2 separate regions of the Homo sapiens genome follow, and region 1 is linked to region 2. The links come from fine-mapping of genetic effects on gene expression. Tissue or cell type: skeletal muscle. Region 2 holds a variant in brackets; the other region holds the start of a gene. All regions are shown on one strand. Distances are from middle to middle.

Region 1 (8,114 bases), 20 kb after region 2:
CCTGCAGTGTTTCTTCATTTTTCAATGTAATCCTCTCTTCTGCTTTGCTCCTATGTCCCCAGCAATGCTTCTTCTGCTTTTTATCACAATAGATTAGTTGTATTTTAATAAGATGAGGAATCACATGGTATGCATTCTGCTTGTATTCCTTCACACGACATGATTTTCTGTGTGTGTGTGTGTGTCTGTGTCTGTGGTTTTTGGTTTTATTTTGGTTTTTGGTTTTGAGACAGCATTTTGCTATGTTTCCCAGGCCGGTCTTGAACTCCTGGGCTCTAAGGATGCACCCACCTGGGCAGGACTATACATGTGAGCCATCGCACCTGCCCACCCACCCTGGCCCATTGACTATTATCAGTTAAAGGCTACTGAAAAACAGCAGGCGCAATAAGATGCTTTGACCTCTTTTGTGTTTCCTAAAAGCAGGAGATGAAAGTCCCCAGGGAAACATAGGACGATCTCCTTATTTTTAAGGATGAGAAGTCGAGGCCAAGAGATTACTGTGCAGACCTTGTTAGAACAGAACCACTCAGCTTTTTAGCCTCCATATATTTACTAGCTTCTTCACAAGTTACTTGGTCCAATTCAATATATAAGTAACTGACTCTCACTGCTTCTCTGTGCTAGGTAAAACTTGCATTAAATAAATGTGTGTGTTGGCTGGGCATGGTGGCACACACCTGTAATCCCAGCATTTTGGAAGGCTGAGATGGGCGGATCACCTGAGCTCGACTTCGAGACCAGCCTGGACAACATGACAAAACCCCGTCTCTACTAAAAATACAAAAATTAGCCAGGCGCAAGGGTGGGCACCTGTAATCCCAAGGTACTCAGGAGGCTGAAGCAGGAGAATCGCTTGAATCTGGGAGGCGGAGGTTGCAGTGAGCCGAGATTGCACCACTGCACTCCAGCCTGGGTGACAGAACAATACTCCATCTCAAGAAAAAAGAAGTCGTACGTGCTTTTCTCCTGTGTACCTGTCTTATGTCAATTTAATTCTCAGGTCCAGCCAAAAAAAAAAAGCCCTTCAAGGGGAGCTTCGCTTCCCTCTATGACTCTCAATGGTGACTCTAACCAAACACCATCCTCCACGCCAACAATACCACATCCTATAGCCTTGCACCAACACGGCCTCTCTGGAGGAGGGGGAGGCAATGGTGGTGAGATATCAGGCCTCCCTCATGCTACCTCCTATTAGTTATATGATTCCTGGTGTCACCTCACCCACCACACTGTGGGCTCCAGGAAGCAGGATTCACATGGGGTTCATCTGTCCTCCCTGGCTCCAGCAGACTCCAAAGACAATAAAGAGCTCATTGTCTATTTCCTGGGTGACTCACTTTCCCCCCAAGCCCATGAGGTGAGCGCAGTGGCGGCCTCAGCTTACCACCTAAGGACAGGCTCCAGGCTGTGGCACAGGGAGGGGACTCCGAAGAGCCCTGTGGACTCTGCTGAGGACCCATAGGAGCTCCCAGAGGCCAAGTGCAGGACAGAGATCAGAGAAGCAGCTCCTCAGAGAACTCTAGCCCTTCAGAGGCCCAAATATGGCTGCTATTATTCAGAAGGTGAGGACAAAAATGCTGGAGACATTGCTCCTGAATCTCATTTTGCCACCTGTAAAACAGGGAAAACAACCTGCCCTCATGTCCCCTGGTTGTTAGGAAAATCCACTACACGAAGATGTACACTCTCTGGCTGGGAGCAGGATACCAGCTGCCCAACAGCACAGGCTCGGGGCATGGCACTGTCCCCACTGTCTCCATCCCCAACCTGGAAGCTAGAGCCTCGCTACCCTGCCACTCCTGGATACAGGACAGAGAACCAGAACTGGGACCGTGGCCTCTCAGTAGGGGCTGGGTGAGCAGCCATCTGCAGCCACCTGGATGGAGACCTTTCCTGCTCATCTTCAAACTCCAACCCGGGCCGGACACCCACCAGAAGCACAACTGGAAACTTGGCAGGTAAACCAGGCTGTGGCCCTGCAGTGCCATCGCTGTCCTCACTTGAACTCTGGCTCCTCTGTTCCTCGATGGCCCCTCCACATGGTGCTCCACCCCAGTCTTCAGAAGCTTCTGCCCCAAGGCCAGGGAGCCTGGTATGGAGGTGCAAGTAGGAACAGGTGCAGCCTCTGCTGGGTGGAGGACATGTGCCCTGGGGATCCAGTCCGGAGTGACTGACACCAGCCCTGAGGATGTGGTTCATCCTCCCACACCTGCTAACACAGCCCTCTGAGGTTTACACAGGGCTGCTGAAGATTTTTATCTCCTCTTCACTTTACAGGCAGGAGCTGGGGCCACACCAGTGTCACAGAGCTGGAGGGGAAGCACAGCAGGGCCCAGCTGTTCCCAGCCTCCAATCTCAGGAGTCCTTGAGAGCCTCAGAGTCCGAGATTCTGGGCCGTTGGATCTTTTCGATTCCTACTTTGATAAAGAGAAGGGCGGGGCGGAAGCCTCTGTCACACAGATTGGAACAGTCCAACGCTGACAGAGCCAGGACCTGGGGTCAGGAACTGAGCTCAGCTCCAGGCTCATCTGATGTCCTCCTGACAGCCTGAAGATGGAGACCTTATCTCCATTTACAGGCGTGGCAGGTGGCAGGGACTGGCCCCAGCTGACCACGGTTCTCCAAGTTCACAGCTGGGAATTCAGTCTTCCCTGCCACCCTCCCCTGCTGTCTCATCTGGATCCCCCGGTCATCTACTCCCACTACCAAAACTCCCGTATCCTTGAAAATTCCTAATACCATTAAGGAATGAAAGTACATAACAATGTGATGAATCACCTTTTACTTCCTAGACTAGCAACGAATGAAAGCTAAGTGTAACAAGGGTGTAGGGATACAGGCACATGTGTGAACTAGGTGTGAGTGTAAGCTGAGTTCAATGGTCTTTTGGAAGAAAATTCGTAAACATCTAAAGAAACTTCTGAAATGATTTATCCCACGGAAGTAGAAGTAAAATTCTACTTCTAAGGAGTTGCCCAATAAGCTGGTGCGCATGGACATGTGGACACACGATACATACAAGGGTATTTAGTACAATGCTGTTGGAATTAGCAAAGGCAAATTTGCTTTGGGTTATATCCCATCGGGATGGGATATAACCAGCTGCCTCTAGATGGCAACAGTGAATTAACCTGTGGCTTACCCATGTAGTAAAATACAATACCCTTGTTTAAAAGAAAATCAATCTGAATGTACTGCCATAAAACATCTAATGTGATTTGTGCTAGCTCCAAAATTTTAAAAAGCAACTGTGCATTGAAATGCATTTAATAAGGCAAGATTGATGGAGGGATCAAAGCCTCCTTTGGGACGCATAGAGTTCACATTCCCAAAACTGTGAAATTCAGGTTGCTGGTCTTGTCTACACAGGTCATCCACACATTCTCTCTTCAGGGCCACTGTCCTGACACAGCCATTCTTCTAGCTGCCTCAGGTAGGTCCACCCACTATAAACTATTGTAGAAGTCAGTTGTGTAATTTTTGAGAGGTGAAAATGTCACTGCTGTTCTGAATTTAGTATTACTTCGTTGAAAGAAAACATGGAGACTCTCATGGTTCATGTAATCTTGTTTTATCCTCCCCGTTTTGTTTTTTGGTATTACGTAAGAAACCTTAGAAAGCACTGTTGGCAGAAACGTCAGTCACTCAGAAAAAGTCCTGGCAGTCTGCACATCTTATTTTTATGTCCTTCTTGTGCACCCCACTACCAATCTCAGTTTCCAAACCCAACTCACAACGAGAACTTTACATCTTTTATGCCTAAGGAAGGGGCCATCCCGCGGTCCTGCCTATGGGATACAGAGGGGACACACGGGTGGCAGTGGAAGACACTGACTGCAAGCACCTTGGTTAACCGCTTCCTGCCACTTTCAGGGTTCTATAGGAAATGAAAGTTACAAAAAACAGCGTTGGAAAGCTTTTTCACAGGCTGTTTGTTAAACTGATCTCCAAGAAACACGTGTAACAGTGTAAACATAGGGTTAATTTTGTTTGTTTGTTTGTCTGTTTTTGTTAAGGCAGAGTCTCGCTCTGTCGCCCAGGCTGGAGTGCAGTGGTGCAATCTCGGCTCACTGCAACCTCTGCCTCCCGGGTTCAAGCAGTTCTCCTGCCTCAGCCTCCTGAGTAGCTGGGACTACAGGCGCAGGCTGCCACGCCTGGCTAACTTTTTTTTTTTTTTTTTTTTTTTTTTTGAGACGGAGTCTCGCTCTTGTTGACCAGGCTGGAGTGCGATGGCGCGATCTCGGCTCACTGCAACCTCCGCCTCCCGGATTCAAGTGATTCTCCTTCTGCCTCAGCCTCCCGAGTAGCTGGGATTACAGGCGACCGCCATCACGTCCGGCTAATTTTTGTATTTTTAGTAGAGACGGGGTTTCACCATGGTGGCTAGGCTGGTCTCCAACTCCTGACCTCAGGTGATCCGCCCGCCTCGGCCTCCCAACGTGCTGGGATTACAGGCGTGAGCCACCGCGACCGGCCTGGGTTAACGTTATGAACGAACGAACGAACGAACGAACGAAAGAGGCAACCGCTCTGTGGCTTCCTGAGGTTCACTCCGGGGTTTCCATCTTGACTCCCTCCCTCCGCTGATTCTGGAACTTCCTCTGGGGCAGCTCAGTGCGGTCCTCGCCGCACGGGACAGCCAGGGGGAGCGCGCGCTCTGCTCCCTCGCGGCCCGGTCGCTCCTGCCCAGCCCGGGCACCCCACTCTTCCCCTGACTCCGACGGCGGGTTCGTCCTGCCCAGACATGCCCGGCCGCAGGCGACCCGGGCCAAGCATCCCCACCGTGTCCCCCTCTCTCCCTGCCCACTCCCGGCGCCAGGTGCGCTCTTCCCCAGCCAGGGACCGCGGCGGAGACTCACCGGCAGCAGAACCGCGACGATGAAGACGACGAACTTAAGGATCTTGGGGTCCAGGAGCCATGGTCTGGTTCCCGACGCTGTCCTGGCTCCTGGATAGCGCCCTGCTCGAGCGCTCGAGGCGGTCGGGACGCTTTGTCCCCAAAGTCCCATGAGAAGGGAGGAGGGTGGATCGAAAGCGCCAAAAATCAATCAGAAATCGTCCCCGTAGTTTGTGCGCGTGCAAAGGTTCTCGCAGCTACACTGCCAGAATAGAACGTGCTCCTCCGCTTTTATACCCCGGAAAAAAGGCGTGGTCAGTTGTACTCCCTTCCCGCAGTCACTTCCAGGCACTCAGGCTGGGTCTCCCCCAGCACCTCCAGGAGGGCCCAGGTTGTGTGGGTGGGTGCATGGACGGACAGGAACTGGCTCTTTCCGGCAGCGGTGACCCAGGGCCTGCGGTTTGATTCCGGGTCCTGTCCAGGCTGTAGGCAGCAGAAGGGGAAGGAGCTGAGGCGCTGCCCGCTGCGCTGCTGTAGTCTGGGTAGTGAGCTCCAGAGGAGGCACTGGAGGCCCATCCTGAGCCTGCTCCCTCCCCGGGCCGCCTGTCTCTCCTCTTCTTAAACCCTGAACTACTTCCTGGCCTCAGGACTTCAGTCCACTCTTAGCTTCTGCTCCCACTCCCTCCTCCCACAGCGGCCTCACTGACCAGTGCACTGATGCCACTGATGTCTCCAGCCTCCTTGCTGCTGTGACCCAGCTCCAAGCTTCTCTGGCAGGGGCTTGGTATCCCTCAGTAGCGGGTGCCTGGCACCAAGGAGGGGCCCAGTGAACACATGAGTGGACAGAATGAAGGACACAGAGGCCATGACAGGCACCTGCAGAGGCTGAGGAGTAGGTAGGAGGGAGAGGAACGCCGGGGGCATCCCTAGCCACAACCTGGCACCCTTTGCATGGTCAAAGCACAAACACTCCCTGACCAACCTTGAGGGCTCTAGTATTGAGGCCCCATGGAGACAGGGGAATCAGGGGAGTGCCTTCCAAAGTCTGTCCCCAAGTCTATTGTCTACCCAGGTCCAACTGTCTGACCTTGGGCTACTTACCTCCCCATCCAGTTGAACACACTGCCGCTGTGAGGGCAGACCCAATGTGTGGTTTTGAAGGGTGCCAGCTTGTGACCCTAAGCAGTAAGGTCAATGGCAGGACTCCTAGACCCTTGGGATGAGTCGGCTCCTGACCCCTCACATGGTAGATAGAAGAGGATAGCGCTATAGAAATGAAGGTTTTTTGGCTCATGAGAAACCTGGGAATGAAATGTCATCCTCTCCACAGGCTTGGATTTGAGCGATGGATCACCCTGAGCACCTTCCAGGGCCCAGACAATGACCTAGGGTCAGAAATGTGAGCCAGGGCCGGGCGCGGTTGCTCACGCTTGTAGTCCCAGCACTTTGAGAGGCTGAGGTGGGCGAATCAAGAGGTCAGGAGTTCGAGACCAGCCTGGCCAACATAGTTAAACCCCATCTCTACTAAAAATACAAAAATTAGCTGGGCGTGGTGGCGGGCACTTGTAATCCCAGCTACTCAGGAAGCTGAGGCAGGAGAATTGCTTGAACCCAGGAAATGGAGGTTGCAGTGAGCCGAGATTCGTGCCACTGCACTCCAGTCTGGGTGACAGAGCGAGACTCTGTGAAAAAAAAAAAAAAGAAAAAAAAATGTGTGCCAGGTCCCAGGCACTGAGCTAGGGTCAGAAATGTGCGCCAGGTTTCAGGCACTGAGCTAGACTCAGAAATGTGTGTCAGGCCCCAGGCACTGAGCTAGGGTCAGAAATGTGTGTCAGGCCCCAGGCACTGAGCTAGGGTCAGAAATGTGCGCCAGGTTCCAGGCACTGAGCTAGGGTCAGAAATGTGTGCCAGGTTCCAGGCACTGAGCTAGACTCAGAAATGTGTGTCAGGCCCCAGGCACTGAGCTAGGGTCAGAAATGTGTGTCAGGCCCCAGGCACTGAGCTAGGGTCGGAAATGTGTGCCAGGCCCCAGACACTGAGCTAGGGTCAGAAATGTGTGCCAGGACCCAGGCAATGAGAAATGTGTGGGGTCAGGAATGTGTGCGGGGTGCAGATCCAGGCAGGAGGTGAAAGGTCAGGGACTTCAGGAAGACTGACAGCATTAACACAGAGCCACCAGGGCCTGCAGGAAAGTCCTTAGAGCACCTTAGCTCCCTTGGCCCTGGAGGGTGGACCACACAGTATAGACCAGAAACCAGACTGCAGGTAACAACGCATTCTCTGTGCCCTGTGTGGAGCACTGACTAGGGCTAATGGCAAAAGGCTGTGAGCACCTCCAAGGAACTGGGCCTTTAGAGTCAAGTTTCCACTTAAGAGGCACTTACTAGCTTGAGATGGAACACTAACTGAAGTCTCCCCTGTCACTGAAGGACATAAAATAATCTTGAAACCTGAAAAACTGATGATGTCTTCAGGAATCTTGGAAAAGCTCTAACGGGGAGGCCAGTCCCAGAAGAGTTCTATTACAAAATGGATTTTTTTTTTTTGAGATGGAGTCTCACTCTGTTGCCAGGTTGGAGTGCAGCACGATCCAGGCTCACTGCAACCTCTGCCTCCTGGGTTCAAGCGATTCTCCTGCCTCAGCCTCCCGAGTAGGTGGGATTACAGGCACATGCCACCACGCCTGGCTAATTTTTGAATTTTCAGTAGAGACGAGGGATCTTCATGTTGGCCCGGATGGTCTCGATCTCTTGACCTCGTGATCCACCCGCCTCAGCCTCCCAAAGTGCTGGGATTACAGGCGTGAGCCACCTCACTCAGCCTAAAAAATGGAAATGGTTGATATGGGATCCTGGTGCCTGAGGAAGGCAAAGAGGAGACACTCATGAGCAGGGAGCCTCTGTTCCCCTCAGACTGAGTCTGGAACTGGGTGAGGAGCTGCTGGATTCTGTGGTCACTTGGACATTGCCCTATACACAGCTCTTTACTTACTGACCAAGAGCTACTTAGTTTGTAGACAGTCATTCCTAGATGAATGGACAACATCCTACTTGGAAGGCCACCCCTCTGATGGAAGAAGGCAAAGGCAAATTGGCTAGGTGGGTTGGATTGCATGCTATTTTCCTAGCCTTATGGAAGATTTGAACAGCAGCAAAAGCCCCTGTACTTGAGTTTTTTTCTGGCTCATGGACAGTCGTCAATGTCCCGGTCATAGAGTTGGGAAGGAGAATGTGAAAGTTGATCGCACAAATTGGGTCATTCTTGTCACACCCAA
Region 2 (8,127 bases):
TTGATCATCAGTACTCTACCATATCAATAGCGTAATTAAATAAAATGGCAGTCTCTATGGAGGCTGGAAAGACATTTGGTAAAATTAAACAGCAATTCTGATTTTTTTCAAACCCTTTTAGAATAGTAAGCTGTGTTCTTGATGATGAGAATTTCTATATGAAACCAAAAGTGAATGCCATTGCTAAGAGTGACACTTTGGAGGCCTTCCCCAGAAATCAAATCAGGACCCAAACACCTGCCTTCCCTAAGCACAGCTGAATATTGTTCTGAAAGGTCTGGCCTAGGCAACAAGATGGAAAATTAAAATGAGGCAAGACTTTTGGAAGAGGGCAGACACAATAATCATTATTTTCAACGTCATTTAAAACCCCTAAGATGAAACTACAATATTGAAATAGAAATGTATGTCTGGAGGAATGTTAAAAACATAGCAAATGCAATAAATTAGCAAACAGAATTACAAGGTTATCCAACTCATAATGGATACAAAATACTAAACAGCCATAAGAAACAGGAATAATTTATTTGAAGAGGAACACAAATCACAACTCAGTTACAATAAAATACTTGACACCAAATGTTATCTCCTTTGATAAGGAAATACTGAATATTAATAAAATATTCAGTGTTTCTAGATTAATTTTTAATTTTAAAGCGAATTGATAAAACGGCAACTGAGGTTTTTCGGGAGGGAAGGATGGAGGAAATCTTTTAATTCTAAATTTTATCTGGGTAAAATAATACATTTTGAAAAAGTATGGAAGAGGTGTTTGCTCTTTTGGATGTTAAAAAACATTAGAAAGTTCCCATTGGAACATGCCTCAAAATGGTAAGAGCCATCTATGACAAACCCACAGCCAACATCATACTGAATGGGCCAAAGCTGGAAGCATTCCCCTTGAGAACTGGAACAAGGCAAGGATGCTCACGCTCACCACTCCCATTCAACATAGTACTGGAAGTCCTAGTCAGAGCACTCAGGCAAGAGAAAGAAAGAAAAGGCATCCAGATATGAAATGAAGAAGTGAAAACTCTTCATGGACGATATGATTCTATACCTTGGAAACCCTAAATACTCCACCAAAAGGCCCCTGGAACTAATAAACGACTTCAGCAAAATTTCAGGATACAAAATCAATGTATAAAAATCAGTAGCACCGGGCACCGTGGCTCACACCTGTAATCCCAGCACTTTGGGAGGCCGAGGCAGGCGGATCACGATGTCAAGAGTTCAAGACCAGCACGACCAACATGGTGAAACCCCGTCTCTACTAAAGAATACAAAAATTAACGGGGCGTAGCTGGGTACGGTGGCTCACGCCTGTAATCTCAGCACTTTGGGAGGCCAAGGAGGGCGGATCACAAGGTCAGGAGATCGAGACCATCCTGGCTAACACGGTGAAACCCCACCTCTACTAAAAATACAAAAAACTAACCAGGCGTGGCAGTGTGCGCCTGTAATCCCAGCTGCTGGGGAGGCTGAGGCAGGAGAATGGCGTGAACCTGGGAGGTGGAGCTTGCAGTGAGCTGAGATCGCGCCACTGCACTCCAGCCTGGGTGACAGAGCAAGACTCTGTCTCAAAAAGAAAAAAAATCAGTAGCATATCTATATACCAATAATGTTCAGGCTGAGGACCAAATCAATAACACAATCCCATTTACAACAGACACACACACACACACACACACACACACACACACACACACACAATACCTAGAAATACCTCTACCCAAGGATGTGAAAGATCTCTAAGAGAATTACAAAACACTGCTAAAAGAAATCATAGATAACATGAACAAATGGAAAAACATTCCATGCTCATGGATTGGAAGAATTAATATGGCTAAAATGGGCATACTGCTGAAATCAATCTACAGATTTAATACTACTCCTATCAAATTACCAATGTCATTTTCCACAGAATTGGAAAAAATTATTGGAAGTAACTGAATCACGTGGACTGGTTTTTCCAGTTCTGTTCTTGTGATAGTGAATAAGACTCACAAGAGCTGATGGTTTTATAAAGAGCAGTCCCCTGCACACGCTCTCTTGCCTGTCGCCATGTAAGATGTGCCTTTGCTCATCTTTCACCTCAGGCCATGATTGTGAGGCCTCCCCAGCCATGTGGAACTGTGAGTCCATTAAACCTCTTTTTCTTTATAAATTACCCAGTCTCAAGTATTTCTTCATAGCAGTATGAAAATGGAATAATACAACTCCCCATTCAACAGCTGATGCTTCGGATATTTGGCTAGCCATATGCAGAACAACGAAAACTAGACCCCTACTTTTCACCATATACACAAATTAACTCAAGGTAGATTAAAAGTTTAAAGGTAAGACCATGAACTATAAGAATTCTAGAAGAAAACCTAGAAAACACCCCTCTGGACATCAGCCATGGCAAAGAATTTATGATTAAGTCCTCAAAAGCAATGCAATAAAAACAAAAATTGTCAAGTGGCATCTAATTGAACTAAAGACCTTCTGCACAGCAGAAGAAACTCTCCACAGGCCGGGTGTGGGGGCTCACACTTATAATACCAGCACTTTGAGAGGACGAGGCAGGCAGATCACCTGAGGTTAGGAGTTCGAGACCAGCCTGACCAACAAGACAAAACCCCATCTCTACTAAAAATACAAAAATTAGCTGGGCATGGTGGCACGTGCCTGCAATCCCAGCAACTAGGGGGGCTGAGGAGGGAGAATCACTTGAACCCGGGAGGCGGAGGTTGCAGTGAGCTGAGATCATGCCACTGAATTCCAGCCTAGGTGACAGAGCGAGAGTACATCTCAAAAAAAAAAAAAAGTATCAACAGAGTAACAGACAACCTACAGAATGGGAGAAAATATTTACAAACTATGCATCTGACAAAGGTCTAATATTCAGGAGCCATATGCAACTTAAATGAACACACAGAAAACAACCCCATTAAAAATGGGCAAAAGACATGAACACACATGTCTCAAAAGAAGACATACAAGTGGCCAACAAACATATGAAAAAATGCTCATCATCATGAATCATCAGAGAAATGCAAATCAAAACTACAGTGGGATACCATCTCATACAGTGAGAATGGCGATTATTAAAAAGCCAGTAACAGTAAATGCTGGCGAGACTATGAAGAAAAAGGATCATTTATATACTTTTGGTGGGAATGTAAATTAGTTCAGCCAGTATGGAAAGGAGTTTGGAGATTTCTCAAAGAATTTTAAAACAACTACTATTTAACACAGCAAACCCACTACTGGGTATACATAGAAAAGAAAACAAATCTGCTGGGCGCGGTGGCTCACACCTGTAATCCCAGCACTTTGGGAGGCCGAGGTGGATGGATCACGAGGTCAGGAATTCAAGACCAGCCTGCCCAAGACGGTGAAACCCCGTCTCTACTAAAAATACAAAAAATTAGCCGGGTATGGTGGCACATGCCTGTAATCCCAGCTACTCTGGAGGCTGAGGCAGAGAACTGCTTAAACCTGGAGGGGCGGAGGTTGCAGTGAGCCGAGATTGTGCCACTGCACTCCAGCCTGGGTGACAGAGCGAGACTCCCTCTCAAAAAAAAAAAGGGAAAACAAATCATTCTACCAAAAGACACCACTATCCATAATAGCAGTGACATGGAATCAACCTAGGTTCCCATCAACAGTGGATTGGATGAAGACAATGTGGCATATATACACCATAGGTTACCACACAGCCATAAAAAAGAATGAAATCATATTGTTTGCAGCCACATGGATGAAGCTGGAGGCCATCATCCTAAGTGAATTAATGTAGGAACGCAAAACCAAATACTGCGTGTTCTCATTTATAAGTAGTAGCTAAACATCAGGTACTTACGACCATAAAGATGGCAACAATAGACACTGGGGACTACCAGGGCGGGGAGGGAGCGAGAGGAGGAAGGGGTGAAAAACTAACTGTTGGATACTGTGCCCACAACCTGGATAAAA[T/C]CATTCATACCTCAAATTTCAGCATCAAACAAACTTACATATGTACCCCCTGAATCAAAATAAATTTGAAAAAGGAAAAATAAAAAATGAAAAAAAGTTTCCTTGGCAGTGTATTATATGTAAAGTAATCCCTGTAATGTAAACAAAATGTACATACGCTTGTATGAATATACATGGCATATGCATAAAGATTTCTACAAAGAATCACAAGAAATTATCTGTTGTATTCACCTGAATGAAGAAGGGCTGGGGGCTGGAGGAAGTGTTAGGGGACTACCACTATGACTCAGCACCTTTGTTTTTTTTTTGTTTTTGTTTTTGTTTTGAGATGGAGTCTGACTCTGTAGCCCAGGCTGGAGTGCAGTGGCGTGATCTCGGCTCACTGCAGGCTCCGCCTCACGGGTTCACGCCATTCTCCTGCCTCAGCCTCCCGAGTAGCTGGGACTACAGGCACCCGCTACCACGCCCGGCTAATTTTTTGTATTTTTAGTAGAGGTGGGGTTTCACCATGTTGGCCAGGATGGTCTCCATCTCTTGACCTTGTGATCCACCCTCCTCGGCCTCCCAAAGTGCTGGGATTACAGGCATGAGCCACGGCGCCCGGCCGACTGAGCACCTTTCTATAGTGTGGCAGATGTGTGGCTCTGCATTTACCACTTTCAAAAAATGTGCAGCGCGGCCAGGTGCAGTGGCTTATGCCTGTAATCCCACCACTTTGGGAGGCCAAGGTGAGAGGATGACTTGAGGCCAGGAGTTTGAGACCAGCCTGGGCAACATAGCAAGATCAGATCTCTACAAATTACAAAACAAAGGTGCAATGCGATTCAGCAGCGTGGAGTAATTGTTGATATTTTTTGTTTATTTCCTTACCTTTTTATACTTCCCTTCATTAAAAAAAATGGGGTATAGTTATAGGAAAGGAAGAAAATGGGTGGAAAGTGAACCTTGTCTAGGTAAGTATTTGACAAGTGATCAAAGAGGAGCCAAAAGCAGAGAAAAATAGGAGAATCAGTTCCTAAACAGGCGTGGAGGAAGGAGACAGTGACTCACAACAATTCAGGGAATTCCTCACTTCACACAGCATCACAAAAGAAATGGCACCTACGTTCCACTGGTGTATGCTACAAACCAAATCATTCTTTAAAAGTCCACAAAAAATTAGGTAGGATCATCTTATTTTATCCTGAAGGAAAGAACTTAAAAAAAAACAAATGTGTGTCCAGATTTCACACCTACTCAATGTCATATCAAAACTAGTGAATCGATGTGAATAACTGGATGTGTGTGTTTCTGTAATACAAAAGCACTTCTACACACTGACTCAGAAATCCTACTTCTTCCCAGAAGCCTCCTTACATACTTGATCAGAAATCTGGACAAAGATTTACTGTGAAATATGTTCAATGTAGTAAGAATTTTGAAGAACATTTAAAACTTCCGCTGTTTCAAGCAAGGGCTCCCTGACTTCTGTTAGGAGCACACGATGGAGACTGTGCAGCCTTATTCAGTCCTCAGTGAACCCTGTGACACCCACTCTATGCCTGTGGAGATCCAGGCTCTGGGGACACAGCAAGGACAGGACAGGGAGTAAGAAGCAGATGTCCTGCAGACTGGCACGGTCACCACCTCAGTGCAGCTGCTCCGTCCCCTGCAGTCCCCTGTCTCCCAAAGGCTCCATGTCCCCTTGGGCCAGGAAAGAGGAGGCACTGCCATGTCCCACTGTCTACAAAGTCCTGTGCAGGCTGCACGCCAGGCAGGGCACAGTCCCTCCTCAACTCACCAGCAGACGCTGTGGCTCCTCTGGCAACTCTACAGTCACACCTGTTAGCTCTGCCAGCTCCTGACCTTGGATTTCCTGCTCAGAGACCTGGGTGGGCTGCAAGTATCTGTTACTCAGGGTCTCGTTGCGGGCATTGTCCTCCGCCCCAGGAACTCGTGAAGGACATGAACGCCGCCGGAAAAGGACCTTGGGAAGACAAAGAGCCCACTCAAGTCCACACCCCGGGCTCAGCTTCAGGGTCCCCAGTACACAGCTGGACCTGCCATCCCCAACCCCTTCCAATGAGGTCACCCCAGGCAGCTGAGGCTCAGCACATCCAGGACCCCATGCTGAGGTGGGTCAGGTGGTCACCCCATCCCCATGGGGCCAGCTGTGGAGTGATGGTGTCACCGAGGCTGCAGGAAGGACAGGGCTGCAGCACGGCCTGCTGGTCTGTGTGCTGCTCAAAATGGCCGTGTGTCCCCCACAGTCAGCCCAGATCCCCCAGGCCATGTCAGAGAGTCAGGGCAGCCATGAGGACAAGGGATTGTGCCCACCCAGGCTCGGCAGTGGATGGGAAGCAGTTCCTGAACCCACGAAGCCCCCAGTTTCTGGAGAAACCAACTCACTCTGTGCACACGTTCGGGACCTCCTCCACCACCTGGAAAAGAAGCAGTCTCCTGAGCAGGCGGGGAGGGGCCCATGCAGCACCTCCCTCCCAGAGGACAGTGGGGCGCAGGGCTGGCTGGGGGCTGGGACACTGGACAAGGAGCCCTGGGGCTGGGGACAGAATGGGGCCTTGCAATTAGGGGACACCCTGAGGAAGGGGGATGAGAAGGGGAACTAGAGTAAAAACCAACACGTGGAAAATCTCTGTGTTCTGCTCTGACCAAGGCTGAATAAATCCCACGACCACTTCTCATCCTGACCCTTGTCACCCAGTTGAGGAGCTGACTGCCCCCTGCCTGGCTGGGCCTGAAGATAGGAGGAACTGGCCCTGCCCTCCTGGAGTTGGCTCCGGGAGATGAGGGGTCCCCCAGCCCTGAGAGAGGGACTGATGAGACCAGGGTCCTTGGGGATACACAGGACGTGGGGATGGGGCGATCACAAGAAGGAAGACCAAGCCAGGCTGGAGACGCTTGGACCAGGGGCAGGGATGGGGATTACTGTCTGTGGGAACGGAGTGGGAGAGGGCAGGGCAGACAGTGCCCAGCGCTCCCACCCTCAGCCAGCACCTACCTGAGCAGATGCCTTTGAGGTAAGAAATGAATTTCTTCCGACATGAAAAGCCAACCACAACCACAGCTAAAATGATGACTAAAACCACTATGATGATAAGGTAGTGATAGGGAGAGGCAAGCATCCCCAGGATGGTGGTCACTGTCTCCTCCGCTGCTGGGGTTTTCCCAGTGGAACTGGCAGCTGATTCATTTTTGCACTTGATGTCACTCCGGGGCGTACAATTACTGACCTTGACCATCCCTCTGGGACACCTGGGTACACACAGAGAGGGAGACAGGGACTCTTGATGGAAAGCTGGCCAGGTGGGATGAAAGAGGAGCCACCCTCCCTGCCCAAAGTCCCTGAGAAGGCGTCAGGAGGACAGGCTCCTCGTGTCAGCAGTGGGTCCCCCTGTGCTCCCTTCTTGAGGCTGGGGAAGGGTCTGAGCATGCACACTTCAGCCCCTCGGCCTCCCTGCTCTGGGGTCAGAGCTGTAGATCCAGGAGCCTTCTGTGCTGGGCACACACTGAGCTTCCCTGGGCTGCAGGGGAGGCCTGCGTTAGGAGGAGCCGCACTCCAGGGGAAGATCACAAGCCCCTGTGGCCACAAGCTGAGCCCCTTCCTCCAGTTAACACACAGTACAAGTGAGTCCTCGCCCCACCCTGTCTGCCGCTGGTTCCTCCCAACCACAGCAAACACTGGAGGGCCAGAGAAGAGCAAGTTACTCTTTGCCCCTAAAACCCAAATAGGATAAAGAAGGACTTAGTGAGAAATCGGGGGCCAGGGGTGAGGCCGGCTGGGTGGGCTCAGGTCCTCATGGGAACTTAAGGGAGCTCCACCCATGGCCTTATTATGACTTTTGTGGGCTACGGACACTTTTGTCTTTATGGGTCCCTGCCCACATAAAAAATATTAAAAATTACATTTTTTAAACCAACTTAGAGTAAGGAAAAATACAAGCCAGGCTGGATTCAAGTGTTTTCTTCTGATTTCAAAAGGAAATTACATTTCCTAGGTTGCCTGAAAAGGTTCAAGGGACCTAGAAAGTCACCTCCTGTGCCCAGTGAACAATTCAGCCTGGACAAAGGGACTCCTGCTGGGGAGGGTATGGGAAGGGGCTGCTGCAGGGGGTAGGGGTGGGGACAGGCAGATGGACCAGGAGGGGCCAACGCAGGCTCAGGAAA

Which allele goes with the higher level. Alleles are on the strand shown, and positions count from the first base shown. SD is a standard deviation of normalised expression in the study named.
For the expression in skeletal muscle of the gene that starts at base 5,104 in region 1, T is the high allele of the variant in region 2 and C is the other (small effect, 0.22 SD a copy in GTEx).

What was found. PIP is the estimated chance that this variant, and not a neighbour inherited with it, causes the effect.
Region 1: TNFRSF10D starts here. The variant in region 2 is fine-mapped to the expression of TNFRSF10D in skeletal muscle (GTEx, PIP 0.98).

The regions. Positions count from the first base shown.
Region 1 is chr8:23,158,924-23,167,037 of GRCh38, forward strand. It overlaps TNFRSF10D (TNF receptor superfamily member 10d), which reads right to left and starts at 5,104. Exons shown (of 9, transcript NM_003840.5): 1 at 4,863-5,104. The coding sequence starts at 5,012. RefSeq lists an enhancer at 4,842-4,961.
Region 2 is chr8:23,138,707-23,146,833 of GRCh38, forward strand. It overlaps TNFRSF10D (TNF receptor superfamily member 10d), which reads right to left. Exons shown (of 9, transcript NM_003840.5): 5 at 6,962-7,215; 6 at 6,352-6,383; 7 at 5,744-5,929. Among named protein-coding and RNA genes, the nearest start is that of TNFRSF10D, 21 kb to the right of the region's middle. RefSeq lists an enhancer at 5,884-6,611. The variant T/C (reference allele first, on the strand shown) is at 3,964.